Regions from separate parts of the Homo sapiens genome. Here region 1 is linked to region 2. Evidence: fine-mapped expression QTL. A gene starts in region 2. The other region holds a variant in brackets. All regions are shown on one strand. Distances are between the middles of the regions. Region 1 overlaps PPP1R12B (protein phosphatase 1 regulatory subunit 12B). Region 2 holds the start of CSRP1-AS1 (CSRP1 antisense RNA 1).

The links.
Region 1: its variant is fine-mapped to the expression of CSRP1-AS1 in uterus (GTEx, PIP 0.95).

The regions. Positions count from the first base shown.
Region 1 is chr1:202,357,206-202,369,914 of GRCh38, reverse strand. The region is part of intron 1 of PPP1R12B (protein phosphatase 1 regulatory subunit 12B); the gene reads right to left. It also overlaps the pseudogene CYCSP4. Among named protein-coding and RNA genes, the nearest start is that of PPP1R12B, 15 kb to the right of the region's middle. RefSeq lists enhancers at 4,858-5,595, 7,191-7,932, 7,933-8,675, 10,078-11,029. The variant T/C (reference allele first, on the strand shown) is at 7,510.
Region 2 is chr1:201,501,134-201,513,842 of GRCh38, reverse strand. CSRP1-AS1 (CSRP1 antisense RNA 1) reads right to left here and starts at 6,630. Exons shown (of 2, transcript NR_160747.1): 1 at 6,424-6,630. It overlaps CSRP1 (cysteine and glycine rich protein 1), which reads left to right and starts at 6,720. Exons shown (of 6, transcript NM_004078.3): 1 at 6,720-6,773. LOC124904484 (a long non-coding RNA gene) reads left to right here. Exons shown (of 2, transcript XR_007066793.1): 2 at 3,842-4,119. RefSeq lists an enhancer at 1,418-1,627 and silencers at 1,778-1,857, 6,389-7,018.

The DNA of each region.
Region 1 (12,709 bases), 860 kb before region 2:
CTGAGGTGGGAGGATGGCTTGAGCCCAGGAGGCAGAGGTTGCAGTGAGCCAAGATCGTGCCACTGCACTCCAGCCTGGATGATGGAGCCAGAACTTGTCTTAAAAAAAAAAAAAGTGTGCCCAATGCCACACCATGGTAAAGCGAGGCAAGTACAAGAGTGAGCCAAATCTCCATGGTCTATTTATGCAGAAGACAGGTCAGGCCACTGAATTCTCTCACAGACGCCAATGAGAACAAAGGCATCACCTGAGGAGAGGAGACACTGATGGAGTATTTGCAGAATCCCAAGAAGTACATCCCTGGAACAAAAATGACCATTGTCAGCACTAAGAAGAAGGCAGAAAGGGCAGACTTGATAGCTTATCTCAGAAAAGCTAATAATCAGTAATAATTGACCACATGACTTTTTTATGTGTACATAATTTAATAGCTCTCTAATATACATCAGAATTCAAATCATGAATAACTCACAGAATATTTTTGTTGAGCAGTCCTGATTTAATTAAGACTCGCTTGTGGTTAAATGAATACATTTGGGTTTTTTAAAATTTTAACAGTAATTCTGATTCAGTAAATGGTATCACTGTTTCCCCCTTCTAAAACTATGATTGGACTTAATTCGTAGTGTTCAACTTTTCACAAAGATGGTGAATGCCATCTTAAAACCTATTAGAGATTGGCTTTATATTTAGATTTATATAACTAGCTATATGAATATATTTAAATACTGGGGAAATGTCTTCACTGTCTCAGAACCAAGCAAGACCCACCTGTGTTCTGCGTTCACGTGCCTCTTAAAGGCAAAGACTAAAGATAAGGTAACAATGTCTACTTTATATTTCTGGTCTTAACTATGTCAATTTAATTAGAATTCTCTGTGTCTAAAATGGTTCCTTGGCTGGGCATAGTGGCTCATGCCTGTAATCACAATACTTTTTTGGGGCTGAAGTGGGAGGATTGCTTGAGGCCACAAGTTGGACCACATAGAGAGACCTCATCTGTACAAAAATTAAAAATAGCCAGGCATGGTGGTGCATTCCTGTAGTCGTAGCTACTCAGGAGGCTGAGGTGGAAGGATGGCTTGGGCCCAGGAGTCAAGGTTGCAGTGAGCCATGATCCTGCCATTGCAACCCATCCTGTGTGACACAGTAAGACCCCATCTCAAAATAAAATGGTTCTTTTAACTTATTAAAAGGCATTTTATATGGCTTATATATATCAAATAAAGAATAGTTAATATTTCTTGAAAAAAAAAAAGAAAAATACAGCCAACACTAATTCTAGAATGATAGAAATTATAACAGTGGTAGCCTGGGGGAGGATGAAGGGGTGGTGGGTAGAACTTTCAAAGGAGGCAAAAATGTCCTATTTCTTGATTTGGGTGATGGTTACCATATTAGGCTATTCTTGTGTTGCTATAAAGAAATACCTGAGGCTGACTAGTTTATTAAAAAAAGAGATTTAATTGTTTCACAATTCTGCAGGCTGCACAAGCATGGCACTGACATCTGCTTGGCTCCTGGGGAGGCCTCAGGGAGCTTTTACTCACAGTGGAGGGCGAAGCGGAGCAAGCACATCACAGGGCGAGAATGGGAGCAAGGTTGCGGGGGGCAGTGCCAGACACTTTTAAATGACCAGATCTTGGCCGGGCGCAGTGGCTCACACCTGTAATCCCAGCACTTTGGGAGGCCGAGGGAGGCAGATCACCTGAGGTCAGGAGTTCAACATCAGCCTGGCCAACATGGTGAAACCCTGTTTCTACTAAAAATACAAAAAATTAGCCGGGTGTGGTGGCAGGCGCCTATAATCCCAGCTACTCGGGAAACTGAGGCAGGAGAATCGCTTGAACCTGGGAGGCGGAGGTTGCAGTGAGCTGAGATCACACCACTGCACTCCAGCTTGGGCAACAAGAGCAAAACTCCGTCTCTAAAAACAAAAAAACAAAAAAAAAACAGATCTCCTGAGACTGCACTCACTATCTTGAGAACAGCACCAAACCATGAGGGACCCTCCCGTATGACCCACACACTTCCCACCAGGTCCCACCTCCAACATTGCAGATTACATCTCAACATGAGATTTGCGGGGGACAGATATCCAAACCATATTGGTTACATGGTTGTATACGTTGTCAAAACCCATCAAACTGTAGATTTAAGTTCTATGCATTTTACTATATGTAAAATTTACCTCAATTTAAAAAAATGAGAAGGTGAGGAAAGTTCATCTGAAATTTTTAGATATCATGGCCTGGAAGTGCTTCACTACAAAGGTGACATTTGCAAGCCATGTGTGTAGCTGATGGAATAGCATTCCAGGCAGAAGGAAAAACAGATGTGAGGCCCTTAAGCATCTATTCCTAGCAACTGGAGTTTTTGAGAAACAAGGAGGACACTAATGTGACTGGAATGGGTTGAACAAGGGAAAGACAAGTACTGAGAGCTAATGGGGGATCAGATGATACAGTGTCTGGTAGGTCACGGTAAGACTCACTAAAGATTTTTATCCTCATCTTAGTCTAAAAGAAAATCACCTAAATGCCTACTAAGAATAAGGCACTGTGCACAGACAGCTTACATAAAGCTTATGTAAGTAGCAAAACCAGGATTAGAAACCAACTATGTCTGATTCCAAAGCTCATAATCTTAACCACTTTGCTTTACTAACTAAACATAACAATACTCAATATTTACTGAATGCTTACTATCAATACGTTAGAGCTAAAAGGCTTTATATCAGATCTTCCCAATCATTTATTGTTCTAAAATGGCTTATAAGTAGTGTAATGTAAAGATCTTCTGAATAAAATTTTGTATTGTATTAAAAATGTTTTGCAACCAACTAAAAATTCAGGATGGGTAAAGTTATATTTAATTCATATAGTTCTCTACATAAACTTCCTAATTATAATTTTGGTACAGAAAACTATGCACATGACTTCACTATATGGAACCACTTAAGTACCATAGTTTTGGTACATAAAACTATGCACATGGCACAGTACAGTGACTCCATGAAATAGCCCCTTCTCTTGATCTTCCTGTTGAATCATTTTAGTCTATATTTTTATTTTAGTCTACATTGTTTAACAATCAGTGAGGTTCTACGTTTTGCACCCATATGTAAATGAAGTTTTCTATTTAATTTGCTCTAATAGCACCACAATTTCTAAATGTATGTTTGTCATCAAAAGCATTATAATCAACATCATCATTATTAATACATCTGGTATTATTAGGTGTTCCTAAATAAAACATAATTTTGTAGTTTCTTAGTCTATTTATTTAATATTCATACATTTTTATTCTGTTGCTCAATGTCTGATTTTTAATGTATTTTGTTATCATTACTGTATTAAGAAAACACAACTGATTTTTTTTTTTTTTTTTTTTTTTTGAGATGGAGTCTCGCTCTGTCTCCCAGGCTGGAGTGCAGTGGTGCGTTCTTGGCTCACTGCAACCTCCGCCTCCCAGTTCAAGCAATTCTCCTGCCTCAGCCTCCCGAGTAGCTGGGATTACAGGCATGTGCCACCATGCTTGGCTAATTTTTGTATTTTTAGTAGAGACGGAGCTTCGCCATGTTGGCCAAGCTGGTCTCGGACTCCTGACCTCAAGTGATCTGCCCGCCTCAGCCTCCCAAAGTGCTGGGATTACAGGCATGAGCCACCACACCCAGCAACAATGAATTTTTATACCAAATTTGCAAATATTCTCTAGTTTACCAGGGGTCTTACACAAATGTCGTCTTCTGTGTATACCATGACATGAAGGAGGTAGGAAAACAATGCTTTAGCTATTACTTCACACTGAGTAGGTGCAGAATTCTGATAATATAAAAATCTCAGTAGTAATGGAATGCTAAAAGAATCCTATCTCTATAAAACTATGTCTCTAAGAGGTTTTTTTGTGGGGGGGCGGGAGTGGAGGGACAGGGTCTTGCTCGGTCACCCAGGCTGGAGTGCAGCGGTGCAATCATAGTTCATTGCAGCCCGAAACTCCCAGGCTCAGGTAATCCTCCCGCCTTAGCCTCCTGAGTAGCTGGGACTACAGAGGTATGCCACCATGCCCAGCTAATTTTTGTATTTTTGTAGAGATGGGGTTTTGCTATGTTGCCCAGGCTAAGATCAAGCAATCCGCCCACCTCAGCCTCCCAAAGTGCTGTCATTACAGGTGCTAAGAGGCTTTTAAAAAAATAAAGAGGTCTAAATGGAGAGGTGAGCCAGGATTTCAGAAAACCAGCACAACCTAGGTAGAAGACTAAAAGCTTCTGAGTCAGACAGATGTGAATTTAAATACCAGCATGACGTGTGATCCCTAGGTTAGGACAAATTACCTTCTTTGATTCTTCTTCCTCATCATTAAGTGGAATAAACCACCTATTTGGTAGAGCTGTTGATGTAAAGATAATTTTTAAAAAGCAAAATGCATAGCAACACTTGGTATAAAGCAGCACTCAGTAAAAATTACTTTTTTTTTTTCTTTTTTAGAGACTGTCTCACTCTGTTGCCTAGTCTGGAATGCAGTGGTGTAATCTTGGCTCAACCACCCTGGCACAAGCAATCTTCCTGCCTCAGCCTCCTGAGTAGCCACAACTGCAGGCGACCACAATTGGCTTTTTTTTTTAGACTTAGGATTTCCCTGTCTCTAAAAATGCCCAGGCTGGTCTCAAACTCCTGGCCTCAAGTGATCCTCTCGCCTTGGCATCCCAAGGTGCTGGAATTACAAGCATGAGCCACTAAAGCTGGCCACAGTACTTATGGTAATTTTAACATACCATGAGTTCAACTATGTTAAAATATTTGCAAAAGCTAAGACAGCCTGAGGAAGAACAAAGGAAAAAAAACCAATTAATATGTTAGGGTGGTATTTGTACTAATTGTTTTTTGTTTTAAAAAATTTTGCTGGCTGGGTGCGGTAGCTCATGCCTGCAATCCCAGCACTTTGGGAGGCTGAGGTGGAAGGACTGCTTGAGCCCAGGAGTTCAAGACCTGCCTGGGCAACACAGTGAGACCACATCTCTACAAAAAATTTTAAAATGAGGCCGGGCGCCGTGGCTCACGCCTGTAATCCCAGCACTTTGGGAGGCCGAGGCGGGCCCATCACGAGGTCAGGAGATCGAGATCATCCTGGCTAACACAGTGAAACCCCGTCTCTACTAAAAATACAAAAACTTAGCCGAGCATGGTGGCGGGCGCCTGTAGTCCCAGCTACTCGGGAGGCTGAAACAGGAGAATGGCGTGAACCCAGGAGGCGGAGCTTGCAGTGAGCCGAGATCATGCCACTGCACTCCAGCCTGGGTGACAGAGCAAGACTCCGTCTCAAAAAAAATAAATAAATAAAAATAAATAAATTAATTAAAAAATTAAAAAATGAGGCAGGAGGAATGCTTGAGCCCAGGAAGTCAAGGCTGTAGTGAGCCATGATTGAGCCGCTGCTCTCTTACCTGGGTGACAGAGTAAGACCTTGCAATGTTATCATGTTGCTTAGTAGTAGATACATATAGAGATGAATAAGTCAAATGTAAAACCAATTCTTAATAGAATCCTTAGATTAGTTATCTTGGAACATGAATAATGACCCCTGATGTTTCTATTACTTTGAAGTTTTTGAAAGAGGAATACAACTATAAGGTATCATCCTTCTTCAAAAGTTCTTCAAAAGAATTTAGAGCACATTTTGCTTCTTCTCAAAGTACTAATAATTTGCAAATAACTACATTTCCATAGACAGAAAAGAATATCAAGCAGAAGTTTGATAAATAGAACATTTCATTATATCTTATTTCTGTACCATGCTTAAGGTATTCCTTTAGCTTTTTTCTAGGCCTCATATTTCTCATTTGTATTAATAAAATGGGCCAGGCATGGTGGCTCACACCTGTAATCCCAGCACTTTGGGAGGCCAAGGCAGGCATATCACTTGATGACAGGAGTTCGAGACCAGCCTGGCCAATATGGTGAAACCCGTCTCTACTAAAAATACAAAAATTAGCTGGGCATGGTGGCGTGTGCCTGTAGTCCCAGCTACTTGGGAGGCTGAGGCAGGAGAATCACTTGAACCCTAAGGCAGAGGCTGCAGTGAGCCAAGATCGCACCACTGCACTCCAGCCTGGGCAACAAACAGGAGACTCTGTCTCTAAATAAATAAATAGAATAAAATAAAATGGCACAGGTGGGTCAAATGGTGTCCTCTAATGTTCTTTTTGCTATAATATCCTGGAACTTCATAATCTTCTAATAAAACAAACGCATATCTGACAGTCCTGCAACTCTGTACTTTCAAGTGGTCCTATAATAGTCTTTCACCCTAGTGGTGGTCCCCAGAGCTGAAGACATTACAGTCTCTTCTCACAGAGCCAGGGGACCCAAAGGGAACTAGAAATTCCCAGGAGAGATAGACAAAACGATTAATGATTTGGAAACTAAATTAAAGAATGCACATGTTTATCCTTATTAGAGAAGGCTAATGACAAGGTCTTGATTATCTTAAAACATACAAAGGTAAATGTGTAGATAATGATCAATACCCTTTTCTCCACTTTTACTATGAACAGATTAATAGGAAATGGAATCAACATGAAGTACAAGCAATATAGACCAGAATAGATCTTTAAAATTATGAGTTTGTCAGTAACTGTGGGATGCCTGAGAGCAAGACACAGTTGTATGCCATGTTTGTATCCCAGTATACAACAGCATCTGGCATCCAGGAAGTGCTCAATACAAATGTGCCCCCCAAAATTAATAACAGATCATTTGACTGTTTAAAGATTCAAACTACAGGCTGGATATGGTGGCTCATGCCTGCAATCCCAGCACTTTGGGAGGCCAAGATGGGTGGATCACTTGAGTCCAGGAGTTCCAGACCAGCCTGATCAACATGGCGAAACCCCATCTCCAATAACAATACAATAATCAGCTGGGCATGATGGTGCATGCCTGTAGTCCCAGCTACTCAGGGGGCTGAGGCACAAGAATCACCTGAGCCCAGTAGGCAGAAGTTGCAGTGAGCCAAGATCGTGCCATTGCACTCCAGCCTGGGCAACAGAGGGAAACTCTGTCTCAAACATAAATAAATAAATAAATAAATAAACATTCAAACTACAGAAGTGCATTATAGAGACAGGACAGAACATTTATCTTGATATTAAGAAAAATGAAGATAATCTTCTTGCAATAATTTAGGTAATGAGCAGAAAAATTAAATTTATAATTTTAATTTTTCAAAGTTATTTCCTTATTACAAAAAAAAAAAACAAAAACCCTGGGCCTTGCTGATTCTGTCATGAACTGGCTATAGCACACACAGAGCTGAAGCAAGGCAGTCTCCACTCTCAACTGAAAACTGGTGCCAATGATAAAGATGTTGCCTGCTTTAAAAAATACCTGTTAAGCACTTAGAGTTCTAGCAGTCAAATTCTCCTAATACTAGCCCTGTACGGCAATTGTGAAGTTGGAATGGATGCGGCTCACCACTAGAGTCCTTGTGCTGTAGGAACTCTTCAACAGG[T/C]GAAATGATTCTTAACAGATGGAAGGAATCCTGGTCATCCTTCAGAATCACTTTCCATTACCCCTAGTGATTTATAATGAGGTGAGTTATTCTTTTGACCTCATTTTTCATGCTATCTACTGTCAAGGAGGAACAATTTAAACATGGGGAGGAAAATCAATACAAGAGGAATAATTACAAAACAGTGAAGCTGCATCCACAGGACCCAAACACAATCTGTTTTGGCATTTTAACGTCACATTTCATCGCTAGACCAACCAACTTTAAAAAAAATAAAAATCACTAACTAAAAAAAGAAACCTGGCAAAAATGTTGCCAAGAAGCAGGAAAAAAAAAAAAAGTAATCTGCCTCCCCTGAAATGCCCGCATATAAATAAAACAGTTCATAAAACCATACATCCCACTGTGAAATTCACATTCAATTAGAAGGGCCAATTTCTCTTAGGCCTCAAAGAGCACAACAAAAGCCAGCCAATCAACCCAATCTCCATATGAATGCCCCAATGTCACTTCCATTTTCTAAGACAAGCACATCATTTGCCCACAGTTGACTGCCCAAAACTGATGTAGCTAGAATGGACACTCTTCCTATCTCTTATAAAGCAGGTCTCTTTCTTCTCCTTGCACCGCCAAGTTACTATTTTTTTTTTAGTTTTCTTTGGAGCGTTCCCTTTGAAGTTTTCTTTCATAATGGACCTCAAGGGCTGGCAGTTGACTTAGGGAATAAGAAACCATATTACTGAACTGGAATTCTGAACAATATTTCAAAATAAGGGGAATGATATGGTTTGGATATTTGTGCCCTCCAAATTTCATGTTGAAATGTGATCCCCAATTTTGGAAGTGGGGCCTGGTGGGAAATGTGTGGATTACAAGGGCAGCTCCCTCATAAATGGCATGGTGTCCTTTCCATGGCAATGAGTGAGTTCTTCTCTTCACAGGAGATCTGATTGTTTAAAAGAGTATGGTACCTCCCACCTCTCTCTCTTTCTCCTGCTCTATGTGATGCACCTGCTTCCCCTTTGCCTTTTGCATGACTGTAAGCTTCCCGAGGCCCTCACCATGAGCAGATGCTGGCCTCATGCTTCCTGTATAGCCTGCAGTACTGTGAGCCAATTAAACCTCTTTTCTTTATAAATTACCTAGTCTCACGTATTCCTTTATAGCAACAAAAACAGACTAATATAGGGAACTTCAGTTAAGAGTTAATGGAGGCCGGGAGCGGTAGCTCACAACTGTAATCCCAACACTTTGGGAGGCCGAGGCGGGCGGATCACAAGGTCAGGAGATCGAGACCATTCTGGCTAACACGGTGAAACCTCGTCTCTACTAAAAAAATACAAAAAAATTAGCCAGGTGTGGTGGCGGGCACCTGTAGTCCCAGCTACTCAGGAGGCTGAGGCAGGAGAATGGCATGAACCCAGAAGGTGGAGCTTGCAGTGAGCCGAGATCGCGCCACTGTCTTCTAGCCTGGGTGACAGAGCAAGACTCCGTCTCAAAAAAAAAAAAAAAAGAGCTAATGGTAAAGATATGAAATGACAGTAGAAAAAGTTTACTCCACTGCCAATCACGGAAAATATTTACATACGAAGGGTACTACTAATCTCAACATTAGGCACCTTGTCAAGCCTTGCAACAGTCAATACACTAAACCTATGTTAACTATTTTATTCACAATTTACTTTTTTTTTTTTTTGAGACGGAGTTTCACTCTTGTTGCCCAGGCTGGAGTGCAATGGTGCAATCTCGGCTCACTGCAACCTCTACCTCCCAGGTACAAGCGATTCTCCTGCCTCAGCCTCCCAAGTAGCTGGGATTACAGGTGTCCACCACCAGCCCCAGCTAAATTTTTTATTTTTGGTAGAAACAGGGTTTCACCATGTTTGGCAGGCTGGTCTCGAACACCTGACCTCAGGTGATCCTCCCACCTCGGCCTCCCAAAGTGCTGTGATTACAGGTGTAAGCCACTGCACCCGGCCAATTTACATTTTTTAAGCTGATCACTGGTAACCCAATTAGAAGCGCAATACAAGGAGCTTCTTGTGATGTGATGATAATTAGAATAATTCACTAATTAATGGAATTCAGGTCTAGTCAAGACTGGCTTGAAACTTCAAAATTTTTGCAGGCCATCAATGGCCACTAAATCACAAAGAGAGATAACCTGACATTATTTGCCTTCTCATGGAAGTACATACCACCACTTATGATGTACTCTTACCAAAAAATTGGAATCTGAATCAGACCTAATCTCTAATTACTAGTTTATAGAAAACACGTGGGACAAAAGAACACCTTAACACCACAAGCAAGCAGTCAGAAAAATCTAGGTTGTAGAGAAACTCTAAAGTACAAACAACCCAGGTTTTCAACAAATAAGGTAAGAGAAAAAAAATGAGGAGGAAACCATAGATTAAAATACGTATCAATCAAAACAGACCTTATTTGAATCATGACTTGAATAAACCAACTGTTAAAACACACACACACACACCTGTGAACAATCAGGGAAACTTAAACACTACTAAAATATAATTTTAAGAAACAAGATTTTGACTTTTAGGTGTGCCAATGAAATTTGTTTTTGTTTTTGTTTTTGTTTGAGACAGAGTCTCACTCTGTCACCCAGGCTGGAGTGCAGTGGCGAGATCTCAGCTCACTGCAAGCTCCGCCTCCCGGATTCAAGTGATTCTCCTGCCTTAGCACCGCCCCCCACCCCCACCCCCCACCGCCAGTAGCTGGGATTACAGACACACGCCACCACGCCTGGCTAATTTTTCGTATTTTTAGTGGAGACAGGGTTTCACCATGTTGGCTAGGCTGGTCTCAAACTCCTGACCTCCGGTGATTCACCTGCCTTGGCCTCCCAGTGCTAGGATTATAGGCATGAGCCACCACGCCCAGCTGATTTTTTTTTAATTTAAATTTCTACGTTCTAGAGATATATATCGAAATATTTACAAATAAAATATAAGCTGGGCACGGTGGCTCATGACTGTAATCCCAAAACTTTGGGAGGCTGAGGCAGGTGGATCACCTGAGGTCAGGAGTTCATTTGAGACCAGCCTGGCCAACATGTGAAATCCTGTCTCTACTAAAAATACAAAATTAGCCGGGCGTGGGGGCACATGCCTCTAATCCCAGCTACTTGGGAGGCTGAGACACCCTGGGAGGTGGAGGTTGCAGTGGGCCAAGATCGCACCACTGCACTCCAGCCTGGGCAACAAGAGTGAAATTCCATCTCAAAAGAAAAAAAAAAATTATGTGATATCTAGGATTGGCTATAAAATAATCCAGTATACTGGAGATGAGGATCTATAAATGAAACAAGATTGGCCATAAGTTGATCACTTTTGAGAATTCATTATACCATTCTCTCTACTTTTGTATCTTCTATTTTGAAATATTCCATAATAAAATGCTTAAAAGAGAGTCACTAGACCAATAATTAATACAGAAAAACCAGATACATATATCATGCCAGATATATCATGAATATTTAGAGCATGGCACCATAAAATATTCCCCAAATTTGCATTAGATTAATATTCTAACAGATTATCACTGTGTCATAACATTTAAGTATACTAAATATAAAATCATCTCTAAATTTTTGTATAAACCTATTCCATAACTATAATGAAGTAGAATATTTCATTAAAAACCACATGCAAGTCAATTTCCAATACTGAAAACTCAAGTTTCAGTTTTTTTTTTTTTTTTTGAGACGGAGTCTCGCTCTGTCACCCAGGCTGGAGTGCAGTGGTGCCACCTTGGCTCACTGCAACCTCCACCTCCCGGGTTCAAGTGATTCTCCTGCCTCAGTCTCCCGAGTAGCTGGGACAACAGGCGCGTGCGACCACGCCCGGCTAATTTTTTGTATATTTAGTAGAGACAGGGTTTCACCGTGTTAGCCAGGATGGTCTCAATCTCCTGACCTCGTGATCTGCCTGCCTTGGCCTCCCAAAGTGCTGGGATTACAGGCGTGAGCCACCGCGCCTGGGCAAAGCTTCAGTTTTTCAATTGAATTGCCTCATGAAACAAACATAAACTCTGCATGCCTGATAAAACTTTAAGCCCCCAAATTTTACTCAAACTGGTTACAATCTAAGATCAGAAGAAACAATTTTTTTAAATGACACTTCAAAAGCAGGAAAAACCCCAACATATTCACAGACAAAAACAACATCAACAAATTGGGCAAGCACTCAATTAGCAATCCAAATGAGGCTTCAATTCCTTGTCCTATATGACATTCTGGGCCAAGGTCTTAATCTGGATTTATTATTACTATGTTGAACCATTAAAGATTTATTAGACATCCCAAACCTCCATATTTCACCATCTTAGAGAAGATATATATGTAATTCTCCTCCATAAGCATAAAATAGTCTCAAATACTGATAAATATAGTACTCCCCTGACACTCCTCAAGAGCCAGAATGCTAGAACAGAAATCGGTTATGTAGCCAATTTCCTATTATAAGTTATAATAGTAACCAACTATTCTGGAGACCAATCCCAAAATTCAAGTTAGTTTCTAAATTGTATCTACTGCTAAGTAAAAGTAACAAGCAGCACAGAATCAGATACACAGTAGACACTCAAGAAATAAATGTAAGAGAATGGCAGAAAAAACTGTTTATTGGTACTAACCTCCCTATCACTGTTCCCCCAAGGCTGCCTTCCAGTGGAAGTGCTAATGAGTGGGAAATGGGCCAAACTAGACTGAGAAGTAAAATAAACTAGATAAGCAGCCATCAGTAATAGGGACATAACTTTCTTGCCCCTATTATCAGGTTTAATATCCTAAAATATTCTTAACTGATGAATAATGAAACCACCTGAACTAGCCAGAATTCAGCTTTTAAAGTGTCTTGCCACATATTTTGGGCCCTCATTTAAATTACAATTATATTGATGGAAAATCTATATTTTTTCTCCCAAAAGTCAACAGAAAGACAAGTTATCCTTAATGCAAAAAAAAACTTCATATAACCTCCACAAAAGTCTTCAAAAATATCTCTACTGAAAGTGCTCTTTCAAAGTTTAAATGACCAAATCCAACAGTCTTTTTACAGGCCTTCTCCTCAATTTCCTTTTACATTATTTACCATCCATTCCTTGAAATACCTCAATATCACTGTTTGTCGGTTCTTCTCTGTATTAGTTTCCTATTGCTGCTATAACAAATTACCAT
Region 2 (12,709 bases):
TTCTCTGCTAAGAATGTAGGATATGAGTTAGAGTCAAAAGGATTTATGAATAAGTATCAAGTTGTCAGAGGTGTTTGAGCTGGAGCAACTCCATCTTGTGTAGGGGATGTGTAAAATAAGGCTGAGACCTACTGGGCTGCATTCCCAGACGGTTAAGGCATTCTAAGTCACAGGATGAGATAGGAGGTCAGCACCAGATACACATCATAAAGACCTTGCTGATAAAACAGCTTGCAGTAAAGAAGGATGCCAAAACCCACCAAAACCAAGATGGCGACGAGAGTGACCTGTCCTCACTGCTACACTCCCACCAGTGCCATGACAGTTTACAAATGCCATGGGAACGTCAGGAAGTTACCTTATATGGTCTAAAAGGGGAGGCATGAATAATCCACCCCTTGTTTAGCACATAATCAAGAAATAAGCATAAACATGGGCAAAAAGCAGCCCTCAGGGCTGCTCCGTCTATGGAGTAGCCATTCTTTCATTCCTTTACTTTCCTAATAAACTTGCTTTCACTTTACTCTATGGACTTGCCCTGAATTCCTTCTTGCGTGAGATCCAAGAACCCTCTCTTGGGGTCTGGATTGGGACTTCCTGTAACAAAGGGCTCCTTGGAAAGAAAGGATTGTCCAAGCTGAGGGTTTTCTTAGGATTACAGTGTATGGCCACTTGGGGGAGCCGAGGTGCGGCGAGGTGTCTTTCACAAGTTCACCAGCAGGTGGCAAGCTTATTCGTGGTTTCTTGCAAACTATGGATTTATCCACGCACACATTCATAAAATACTGAGCACCTACTCCATGTAAGGCTCTGTGTGGCTACAAAGGAGGGTAAGCTACAATTCCTGCCCTCCAAGACCTTCCAGGTGAGTGAACTCAATGTTTCCTTAGCTTGTCTTTGGGTTGAAATAGTTCTTCAAAAGTCATCCAATCCTTTCTTCTGTCAGTGTAATTTAATATAATCGACCCTGATGGAGGAGAGGAGTCAAGAGTCTTGCCAAGGCCGGGTGCAGTGGCTGACGCCTGTAATCCCAGCACTTTGGGAGGCCGAAGTGCACGGATCACCTGAGGCCAGGAGTTTGAGACCAGCCTGGCCAACATGGTGAAACGCCGTGTTGCAGGGTTTCTACTAAAAATACAAAAATTAGCTGGGTGTGGTGGCGCATGCCTGTAGTCCCAGGCTGGGAGGCTGAGGCAGGAGAATCGCTTGACCCCAGGAGGTGGAGGTTGCAGTAAGCATAGATCGCCCCACTGCACTCCAGCCTGGGCAACAGACTGAAACTCCGTCTCAAAAAAAAAAAAAAAAAAAAAAAAGAGTTTTGCCGAAAGTCTGGTTATTTTCAGTCTACTTCACTGCTTTAAGTAGATTGGCCAGGTGATCATAGATAAGATCAGAGCAGTGAAGGTGGTGTGGCTAGGGACCAGGAGAACAGGGAGAAAGAGATTTTAAAGCAGGAGGAAAGCAAACTGATCAGTAGATTAGGAGCTGGCGTGATTGGAACTGGGCCTGTCAGAAAAGCCTCTCCTGAGCCTTCAGCCAGCTCCCTGTGGCCACACTTCCCTAGAGCCTGTCAGGCTCGGAACAGTGGAGCCATGCACAGCCAGCTGCCCGGGAGCTCCCTGCCGCCTGCTCCCGCCCTGAGTCCCCAGCTCCTCCTGCTTTCCCCTCCCCACACTTTGGCTGTGAGAGCCACTCCACAGTTTTGCCTGTTTGGGACAGAGGCAGTGGCTGCAGAGGGAGCAGGAGGGAAGTGACCTTACATCAATTTCAGGCCAAGGGGAGGGGAAGAGGAAGTGGTCATTTAAAAACCTATCTAGACTGTTTCACAGTGTTCTTAAGGACCCAACCCTGAGCCACCCCAGTGCATTTCTGAATATCACCTTTCAAGCTCCCCTGGAGCTTCACAGTGTAAATTTCAGCCTGAAAATCAGAAGAGATTTCTGGATCAGGAACCCCCTAGAGTTTTTATTTTGTTCCTTTCTAAATGGATTTCTCCTTTTCTTGCCTCTAAGCATTTTATTCTTATAACATGTATACACTGCCTTTTCCGATTTTCATTTGCCTCTGGCTGCCAAGCTCATTTCTCCAGCAAACCCTGAGAGATTCTAGGAATCTTCCTTAGAAAACATGAATACAGGGACTGAAAGCAAATGCTGGGCCTTATTCCACAAGCCCCCTTTGACTTGCCTCATCCTAGCCTAGGCACAGCCGAACAGTGCCAGAGCCAGGGAGAGCCTTGCAGATCACCCACGTGGGTAGGCGGGCCTAGTCATATTCCCAGGGGCCCACAGAGATACTACCCACCAAGCACGATACATTTCCTAAGAACTCCATTTCTCTGAACAGTAAGTAATTTTATTTATTTATTCATTTATTTTTTGAGACAGGGTCTCACTTTATCACCCAGGCTGGAGTACAGTGGAGTATAGTACGGCTCACTGCAACCTCTACCTCCTGGGCTCAAGCGATCCTCCCACCTCAGCGTCCCTAGTAGCTGGGACTACAAGCATGCCACCATGTCCAGCTAATTTTTGTATATTTTGTAGAGACTGGGTTTTACCATGTTGCCAAACTTGGTCTCAAACTTCTGGACTCAAATGATCCACCTGCCTCAGCCTTCCAAAGGGTTGGGATTACAGGTGTGAGCCACCGTGCCTGGCCAGTGAGTCATTTTAAACATTATCTTTTTATGAAGACAAATACAGTTATGTGCCAAGGAGAATGCAAAATTCAAATAAATTTTTGCAATAAACCCCAAGACTTCAAGGACTGGGAGTGGATTGATTCTGACAACACTGTGGGTTCCTTACATTTACTTCTTTGCTGTCAGAGGTACCTCAGTGGAAATTTTGGAGAATACTGAGTTAGTCCAACCTCCCATTTCACACATGAGGAAAACTGAGGCCTAGGCCATGGTCACAAAGCTACTAAGTTAGCTACTGCTGTAAGCCCTGGTCTCCTCACATGCAAAGCAGGGGGTAAAAATAGTCCTTACTTCATACAGCTACTGCGAAGATTAAAGGGGACAATTGTGTAAAGTACCTGACAGGTAGTAAATGCTTAATAATTATAATTATTCCTCATTATCAACAGTATTTTATTTGTTTTTTGTTTTTTTGAGACACAGTTTCACTCTGTCACCCAGGCTGGAGTGCAGTGGTTGGATCTCGCCTCACTGCAACCTCCACCTCCCAGGTTCAAGCGATTCTCTTGTCTCAGCTTCCACAGTAGTTGGGATTACAGGCACATGCCACCATACCCGGCTAATTTTTCTATTTTTAGTAGAAATGGGGTTTCACCATGTTGACCAGGCTGGTCTTGAACTCCTGACCTCAAGTGATCTGCTGGCCTTGGCCTCCCAAAGTGCTGGGATTAAGGCATGAGCCACTGCGCCAGCCATCATTAGTATTTTAAATCATAGATGACAGAGCTGAGACTCAAACTGCAAGTTTAGGGCTGGATTTTTTTTTTCTTTTTTTAGACCATTAGATGAGTAAACTTCTTGAGGTCAGGATCCAAATTATAGGCTTCCTTGTATTCCCAGAACCTAGAGACCAGCACAGAGTGGGGCCCCAATAAATGTCTTCTGAGTGAATGGTTGGATGGATACATGGATGAACAGGTGGATGGACGGATGGATGGATGGATGGATGGAGGGAGGGATGGATGGATGGAGAGACAGATGGATGAACAAATGGATGGATGGGTGAATGAATGAATGGATGGATGGACAGATGGATGGAAGGATGGACAAGAAGATCTCCAGCCCAGACTGGATCTCTAATTTCTCTGGGATGATGAGCAGAGCTAAGCCAGACACATTCCCTTACTCTTTCCTCAGCCTCACACTCAGGTCCTCTTCACTTGGGATCAATGCGGAAAAGAAGGGTTTCACCACAGGAGAGGAGAGAGAAGATGTAGCATCAGGATGCTGATGAGGGAGGAAAGAGAAGAAAAGATGCCAGAGGAAGCAGCAGACAAAGTTGGAAGCTGGAGGACAGGGGCCCTACTTCCTGCCTGTAACAGGCCCCACTTCATTCCTAGCAGCCATCAAATACCAACCCAGAAGTGTTGGGAAATAGAGTGCACAGAGAGAACATAAAGATACTGAAAAGGTTAGACATTTGTGAGAGTCCTGAGAAGCAGGTAAGCCCCTAAGTGTGCCAAGCCTCCTTCTAGAACCCCTAGCAGATAATTTATTGGTGATGAGCTCTGACTGCATTGTCTCTGCAGATGTGGGTGCTGCTGACCAGCTCGGGCCAGTCTAGATATGGTTATATAAATGAGGTCAGCCAGAATGAGAACCTCTGCAGAATGAGAATCTCTGCCTTAAGGATGTCCCAAGTATTGATGATGTTTACTGATTTTTCTGTCATTTCAACATCAGGCTTGTTCCTGTTTGCATGGTGGGTAACCCCAGCATCACCTTTGACTCAACTCAATCCCAAAGCCCTTCCTCATCCCTCAAGTCTTCTTTATCTGCAAATGTGCTATCTAAGACCAAGCCCAAGTAACTGGCAGCAGGCTGGGAGAATAATATAGTCAGAAGGTGAGAGGTTCTGGAAAAACACCAAACAAGGCAGGTCCTACTTGGCTTCATCTGTAGCTCTGCGTAGACAGCTCCTAAGACAAGTGACCTGACAGTCTTTGGGTGGAAAAGAGGGGTGACCATCTGCCCTGGACTGCCTGAGATAGTCCTGTTGCCTTAGTGTAGTTACGAATACTACCACATACCACTTACTATCCAAAGCATTCTGGTTTAGATGACACATTGTACAGCCATTCTGTTTATAAGGTGCTTTAAGATCTGGGAGAAATCCAAGTGTGACTGCAGTGACTGCTCTTCTTTTTCTGGATCTACCCTAAAGCCATTTCACAGCACAGGTTGGCATGTCCTCACAGGGAAATCTATCAACAGTCCCATGACTCCAGAGAGGACAAACCCAGACCAAAGAAGGTAATGTAGGAGTTTGCCCTTTTGTAAAATCCTGGGCAAAACTCCGAGGCTCATCTCTCCAAGATACTGAGAATTGAAAGGAGAGGGGGAAATCCCATGGGATCGCCATCTTTGGGCGGAAGCCCTTGGTCTCTGACACTGATGGTGGTTCTGCAGTTTAATGGACCTGTTTAACTATTGCTTAGTCAGTGCAGCCGTGACCAGAAATTCTTCTGGTTTCTCCTCCTTCATCTTGGTTGGGTCAGATGAAGATGGCCCAATCTGCAAGAAACACTGGTTGTGTGCTTCTAGACATTTTAATCTTGGAGGGCCTTGTTTATAGGATGGACCTGGCCAAAGGAAAGATGTTACTTATGGTAGAAAGCAAGAAAAACCTAGATAAACACTTTTTTTTTTGAGAAACACTCTTGCTCTGTCGCCCAGGCTGGAGTGCAGTGGTGCAATCTTGGCTCACTGCAACCTCTGCCTCCTGAGTTCAAGTGATCCTTCCACCTCAGCCTCTCGAGTAGCTTGGATTACAGGCACACACCACCACGCCTGGCTAATTTTTTTAATTTTTTTGTAGAAACAGGGTTTCACCAGGTCTCGAACTCCTGGGTTTAAGCAATCTGCCTGCCTCGGCCTCCCAAAGTGTTGGGATTACAGGCGTGAGCCACAGTGCCTGGCCAAATACTTCATTTTCTAGATCATAAGATGCTTAACTTTATTCCTGGCAAAAAGTTGATTCAGCAAACCAGGGCTTTAAGTGAAGCCGGTTGGGGCCTGAACCCTTGACACCTGCCCAGGGTGGAAGACATAGCAGCTGCATCTATGGGCCACCTGGGGTGTAGGGTGACCAGCTGGAGGCTGTGAGCTTCTCTGCTCCCTGAAATGCCTGCACGGGGCACTCAGGAAGGGCTGGGGACTGGGTGAGGAGGTGTGGACAGAATGTCCCCTGGAAACTGCCCCAGGGGCAGCTTGAGTGGCCTGAGCCTGTGTCTGTCCTACTGAAGGTTGGAGCCCCAGAGAAAAGCCTCTATGGAGGCACCCACTTTTCAGAACTGCTGCTTTTGCGGGAGAACACCTTTTTCCAGGTGTTGTCCTTAGGGTAGCAGGGAAGACTGGGAAAAACTGAGGGGCAAGAGCTGTTGGAGGGGGGAGTTACATTTATTGAGTGTCTATTACATGCCGGGTGCTGCTGAAGGTCTGCGGGTCCTACCGGATCTCCTTTTAGCCCCTCACATCCCTGTAGATTACACGCCGTTCACAGATGACCCTGAACCCAGAAGGGCTGTCTAGGCCCAGGGCCCAGCTAGTGAGTGGATGGGCAGAATCAGACCTGCCCTGGAAGGGTCTGTCTTACCCTGGCGCCCAAAATGTGTCCCTCACCCTCTGCCACCAGGACAAGTAAATTCGAGACACCCTTTCGTTAGGGGCTCAAGTTTATCATGGGTCTGACCTCTAAGGTCATATCTCCGCCTTCTCACCTGACAGACAGGAAACTCCTGAAATGCCCCTCGCACGTGCAAGACGTTTTCCGCGGTGGCGGCGACAGGGCGCACAGTGGGACCGCAGCACGAGCTCGGAGCACCCCCAGAGTCGGCGACTCCTGCCCCCGCCCCTGCCGGCCGGCCTTCCCGGGGCCTAGGAGGGCAGCACCGCCGGGCTTCGCGCCATGACATCAGCCCTGGAGTGGTGCAGTGTGCAAAGCCCACTGGTTGGCGTGGCCCGGGACACGCCTTCCGCGGAGCGGAACAAAACGGCGCGCAGGCCGGGCGCACCCAGCCGCCACTTCCGAGAGCGCCTGCCGCCCCTGCGCCGCCGAGCCAGCTGCCAGGTGAGTGCGCCCTGAGTCGCGCGGCTCTGCCCGCCGCGGAGGGGCGCCTGGGCACGCACTCAGCGCCTCCCGGTCTTGCCAGCCCCGCCGCAGCCCCGGGGCTGTCGCAGGCGGGGAACTGTGAGAAGTGACCGCAGTTAGCCCGGGCAGTGCTGCTCTTTTCTGGAGGCACTAGGTCCGTCCCCATCCCGGGCCTTCCTGGGCTTCCTGGACACAGTTGACTTCCGCGTGTGCGTGACCCAGGGCGACCCGGCTCCCCGCAACCGCCTGCAAGTCGGGCAGAACAATCGGCGATTCTGCGCGCCACTGACGCTCATTGTATGGCAGAGAGATGAGGGCATCCGTGCCACCCCCTCCCTCACCCTCCTGCTGGGGAGAAAATGCCCGCGGGCGGGGTGGGGCAAACATCTGGGCCTGACCTTGGACATCTGTGTCCCTGAGCGCAGGTGTGAGTTTTCCCTCTTGTGAAATAACTGCATGGAAACCTCTCCACTCCAAATCTTGGTGCTAGGTGGTGATGGTTACTGAAACCTGAAAGAGCCTGCAGTCAGTGTTTTGTGGCCTCAGTCCTTGAAAGCTGGGAAGTGATAAAGGGGCTGGTATTGAGCACATTTAAAGCAAATCACAATGTGTTAGCTAACAATCAGCCCTCTGAGGCAGGTATTGTATCTACTGGTACAGACTAGAGAATATTTTGCATGCTTCTGGTTCTGGTGCTGTTGTGAACTAACCAGGACCCAGGAATCGGCTGGAGCAATAGTGGGCTCAGGCTCTGCCTAGAGCCCTGGGCTCCAGCCACCCACCAGCTGCTCCCTGAGAGTGAATGAATGGGCAGGCTCTCCCCACGCTGGGATACTATCACAGTGGCACCGAGGAAATCCACTGGGCCCTGGTAGAAAGTATATCAGTATATCATGAAGAGGTGGCTTGGAGTCTTGGTGGGATTGTTTGGAAGGCAGAGTTTTGACTCTTGGATTTGCCACTTAACGCGCAGGTTTCCTTGGACAAACTATTTAACTTCTCAATGTCTCAGTTTCTTTCAGGGATGCTACTTGGGGAGCATATTACACAGAACCTCCAACACAGGAGTGATCTCTCAGTTACTGTCTTTCTTGTCCTCCCCTCATCCCTTGCCTTCCTCCCAGAAGCTAAGGAGGCTGGAGGTGCTGGTTGTCTCCCTCTGTCCTCTCAGACTGCATGTTGGGGATTTTCCCCAGGTGGGATTTGGGGATGGGTACTGAGCCTCCCCTCAACTGCTCTCACTCAACTGCTGCCTCCTGACTCTCCAGCTGGTTTCTGGCTACCTCTTTTGAGAGAGACTGTCCTCAGCCCTCAGCTGCTGGAGGGCAGCTTTTACCCATTGTTTCCTAAATCCAGCCTCCTCCTGCTCACGGTCTTCCAGTGAATGACTCTTTGCCTTGGAGAGGATATCCGGGGCGGAGGCAGTCAGACGAGGAAGGAAGTTTATCCTGCAGAGGGTGTAGTGTGGGTTAGAGGAGAGGGAGGAGAGAACTGTCTGCAAGGCCTGAGATGCCCAGGATGGAGGGTATGGGGAAGAAGAAGCAGGAGAGAAACTAAAGAGAAGGCCCATCAACTCTGCAATTGGCCTGCTAATAAAATGGGAAAAACAGGGGTGCTGTGGCCTATTTGCCTGTGGTCTGTCTTAGCACCTGCCTTCCTGGCCCAGGTGTTTGCTCTTTTAATTGCACACATGTGCATCTGCCTCTGGAGCTAGTGAGTCCTGACTGGGCCAGAGTTGCAGCCTGGGAGTGTAGTGACACTTGACTGAGTGATCAGCAAACATTTGATGAATGAGTGGGGTAGCAATGGTCTTTCAGCTGAGTTGGCCTACGGGATACTCATAAACCTTGCAAATAGTTACTAGCCAGTTTTTCCACTTGGGTAGATTGACAAGCAGGTGAGAGAAAAAAGGCGTAGGTTTTTTTTGGGCTTTTTTGTGTGTTTTTGTTTTGAGGCAGTCTTGCTCTGTCACCCAGGCTGGAGTGCAATGGCGTGACATTGGCTCACTGCAACCTCTGCCTCCTGGGTTCAAGCGATTCTCCTGCCTCAGCCTTCCAAGTAGCTGGGATTACAGGTGTCTGCCAATATGCCCAGCTAATTGTTTGTATTTTTAGTAGAGACGGCATTTCGCCATGTTGGCCAGGCTGTTTTTGAACTCCTGACCTCAGGTGATCCACCTGCCTCGGCCTCCCAAAGTGTTGGGATTACAGGCATGAGCCACTGCGCCCGGCCTGGTGTTTTTTTTTTTTTTGGAGACAGCGTCTCACTATATTGGCCAGTCTGGTCTCGAACTCCTGGCCTCAAGTGATCCCCTCCCTGTCCCCACCACCATCTCAGCCTCCCAAAGTGCTGGGATTACAGGCATGACCCACTGCGCCTAGCAACATAGTTTTTAATTCACTGTCCATCCCTGGTGTGGGAAGCAAATTGGGAAGGCTTTTCTGGCAGGTTGTTAAAGTTTTAAATATGTATGTAAGCCTAGCTTATTGTGAAACGTTGGCTTGCTAGATGAAGACACATGCGTTAAATATTTTGGGATCCAAAGAGGTGCTAGTGAGAATAAGACTTTTTCCTCCAAGTCAGCCATTTGGCATTACTCAGGGCATATTGTCAAATATCAAAAGAGATACAAACCTGAACGATAAGTGTTAGAGTTGGCCTCTCCTTAAGATAAGGATAACCAGATATCTGCACTTGCAGTGTACCAGACAGTGTGAGAAATACTTCACATGTGTTATCTTGGACAATTTATGAGGTAGCTACTGATGCTCTCCATTTTACAAATGGAGAAACTGAGGCTCAGAGGTAGTAAGAAACTTGCTCAGGATCACAGCTGATCAGTTGTGGAGCTGCCATTCAAACATAAGCTGACTGTTTCCAAAACGTATGCTCAGTCACTACCTTATTATTTTTCTTTGCTCCTCTACATTTCCTTTTTCCAGATCAACTCACTAAGGAAATATCTGCCATTTGTGAAACACATCAGCTTTACAAGGTGCTTTACAGTGGCTTATAAACTATTTAAGGAAGATATCTTTCACTTGGATGGATCAGGGTTAGAACTCCTGACCTCCGGGTTTTCAGTCTGTTGCATGGCCAGGTAGGAGCAGAGGGGACCCCTGAGAGTTAGTTCCCAGCCACTAATGGATATGCTTTCACCAGCTCTGCATGTTTGAGTTTCAGAGCCAGGTTTGCAGAAAGAAAACAAGCCTGGAAAAGAGCGTGCTTGAGAAAGAGAGAGCTAGCAAAACTTGAGGGGAGGGCAGAGAAGGTGAGGTGGAGGGGTCCTGGGTTCCGACTGCTGTTTCTAGTTGTCAAGAATTTATATGGTAATGACGTGCCTGTACTACGCAGCTACCCAGGAATGTGTCTGACGCCAGCACTGAGTAATTCCCATGTATGGTAAAGTGTGTAAATACGGGGGCAGCTAGCATTTCCAGACTCTGGTATTTCCAGTGCTTCCCCAGGGCCAGAAGGCAGCGTCTGAGTCTTCAGCGGTGACAACAGGGGAAGAAATGGAAGGTTAGCAGCTGGAGCTCAGCCCCAGCTAGGCAGCCAGCACCCCCTACCCCCGACTGTGTGCCTGGCTTTCTTTATGCAGGGGTGGCGTGTGTTGGTGCTTCCTGGGATGTCAGCTGCAAACGACCTGTGTTTTTAAGGCCTAAGTGCTAATGTGTTTTAACTTGTAAAAAATTAATCAAAGAAAAATCATTCAGACCATTTTGTTCAGCATGGAATAACCAACATCATTACAGATCTGGATAAAAGCAAGGAAACCCCATCTGTTAATTTGTCTATGAGGCTTTATTATAATACAGGATTTCCTGTAGAAGTTTTGAAATACTACAAAGAAGTCATCGACCTCCATTTCTACCTGTGTTGACCTTCAGACTTCTTTTTTTTGAGACAGAGTTTCGCTTTTGTCCCCCAGGCTGGAGTGCAGTGGCACGATCTTGGCTCACTGCAACCTCTGCCTCCGGGTTCAAGCAATTCTCCTGCCTCAGCCTCCCAAGTAGCTGGGATTACAGGTGTGCACCATCACACTCAGCTAATTTTTTTTTTTTTTTTGTATATTTAGTAGAGATGGGGTTTCACGCTGTTGGCCAGGCTGGTCTCAAACTCCTGACCTTAAATGATCCACCCACCTCAGCCTCCCCAAGTGCTAGGATTATAGGAATGAGCCACTGCGCCCTGCAAACTTCTGAACTCCAAGAGTAGGGAGCTCTGCTCTAGAAGGCACTGGGGGCAAGTGGGGAAAGGGAGAGACATATACCGCCCTTGTCAGCTCACAGTCTCACAAGGGCCACTGGACATGGATTTGAAAAGAGAAAGCTCATTCAATAGAGAGAAGGATTCCTGACCTAGAATGACAGTCAAGTTCTGGAGGCCCATGGGGCCTGGATTGATGGTAGCTCAGTGATGCTGGTTACCTTTTCAGAGAGGCGGGTCATGTGCACGGTTCTGAAGGAAACATGAGGTGGGACATGGAAAGCTGAGGCCAAGCCTGCCCCATCTCCATGGCAGCCATTCTCCCCCTACCCGTGACCCTGAGCTTCAGGAGAGGCTGATTTCCTGAGCTCTCAGGTGTCACTTCTAAGACTTGGCTCTGAGCCCTGACCAGCCCAGCCCCCTCCTCTCTCTGCCCTCAGCTGCTCTCTGGACACTGGGGCGTGGAGGCAAAAGCCGAGCTGCAGATTGGAAGGGATGCCAGCCCTCCTGTCCACCTGGCAGATACCAAGCAGCTCAGCTAATGCGAGGGAGCTAGATAAACATCTGACAGGTTTCTACTGGAGCAAGTGGATGGGGACTTTAACCCTGTGCCGTCAGTCACTCTTTGGCCCTAGGGAATAAATGATTTTGGAATGGGAGAGATGGGATTTTTCCACTGTAGAAATAAAGATATGGGATGGTTTTGAAGGGTTTGATAAGAAGGGGCTTGCCTTCAGACACTGGTGGCTGGCAGTTAGGGATTTTACATCTCTGCGATGGTTCCTTCAACCTGTCACCTGAGCCAGACTTTATTTATTTATTTATTTATTTATTTATTTATTTATTTTGAGACTGAGTATTGCTTTATTGCCCAGGCTGGAGTGCAGTGGCAAGATCGCTGCTCACTGCAACCTCCATCTCCTGTTTCAAGCAATTCTCATGCCTCAGCCTCCGGAGTAGCTGGGATTACAGGTGCCCGCCACCATACCCGGCTAATTTTTGTATTTTTATTAAAGATGGGGTTTCACTACATTGGCCAGGCCGGTCTCGAACTCCTGACCTCAAGTGATCCGCCTGCCTCAGCCTCCCAAAGTGCAAGGATTACAGGCGTGAGCCACCACACCCAGCCGAGCCTGACTTTCATGAGATTTGGGGTGACTGAGAGTCTGTGACCTTTTTCTTCTCCTTTTGCTGCTGCTGTAAGAGCTGCCACCTTGGCTTTCTTGTCTCAAGGCTGAGGATCTGGGTACAGTCCTAACTGGGGATCTGGGTACAGTCCTAATGGGACAGCCAGGCTAGGAAGATGCAGCAGCAGACACAGCAGGCTTCTAGCCGCCAGCCGTTTCAGGAAAACAGCTGACCAGGTGTTTCCAGCCATTCAGTAGAAAATTCAAGCTCTGTTCTCTGTTGAGATGGTCAACAGAGTGAAATGGGACATCACAGACAGCTGGGGGGAGCTAAACCCCAAAGAAGGGCAAGTAACTTGTCCCAGACTCATTCGCTGGGCTAGCAGATGAATCAGGAGTTCCTGGCCCTATTTGGCATGGTACTTCTTAAGCCTCGCTCCTTCCATATGTGGACTAGCTACATGTGGATGGCTGGCCCACATCTAGCAGTGTGGAGTCGACGTATGACTGGTCCAGTCGTGTGAGTGGTAGTCAGAGGGGCGGGCACTTACAGTGTGCTGGCCATCACTTCCATACCTC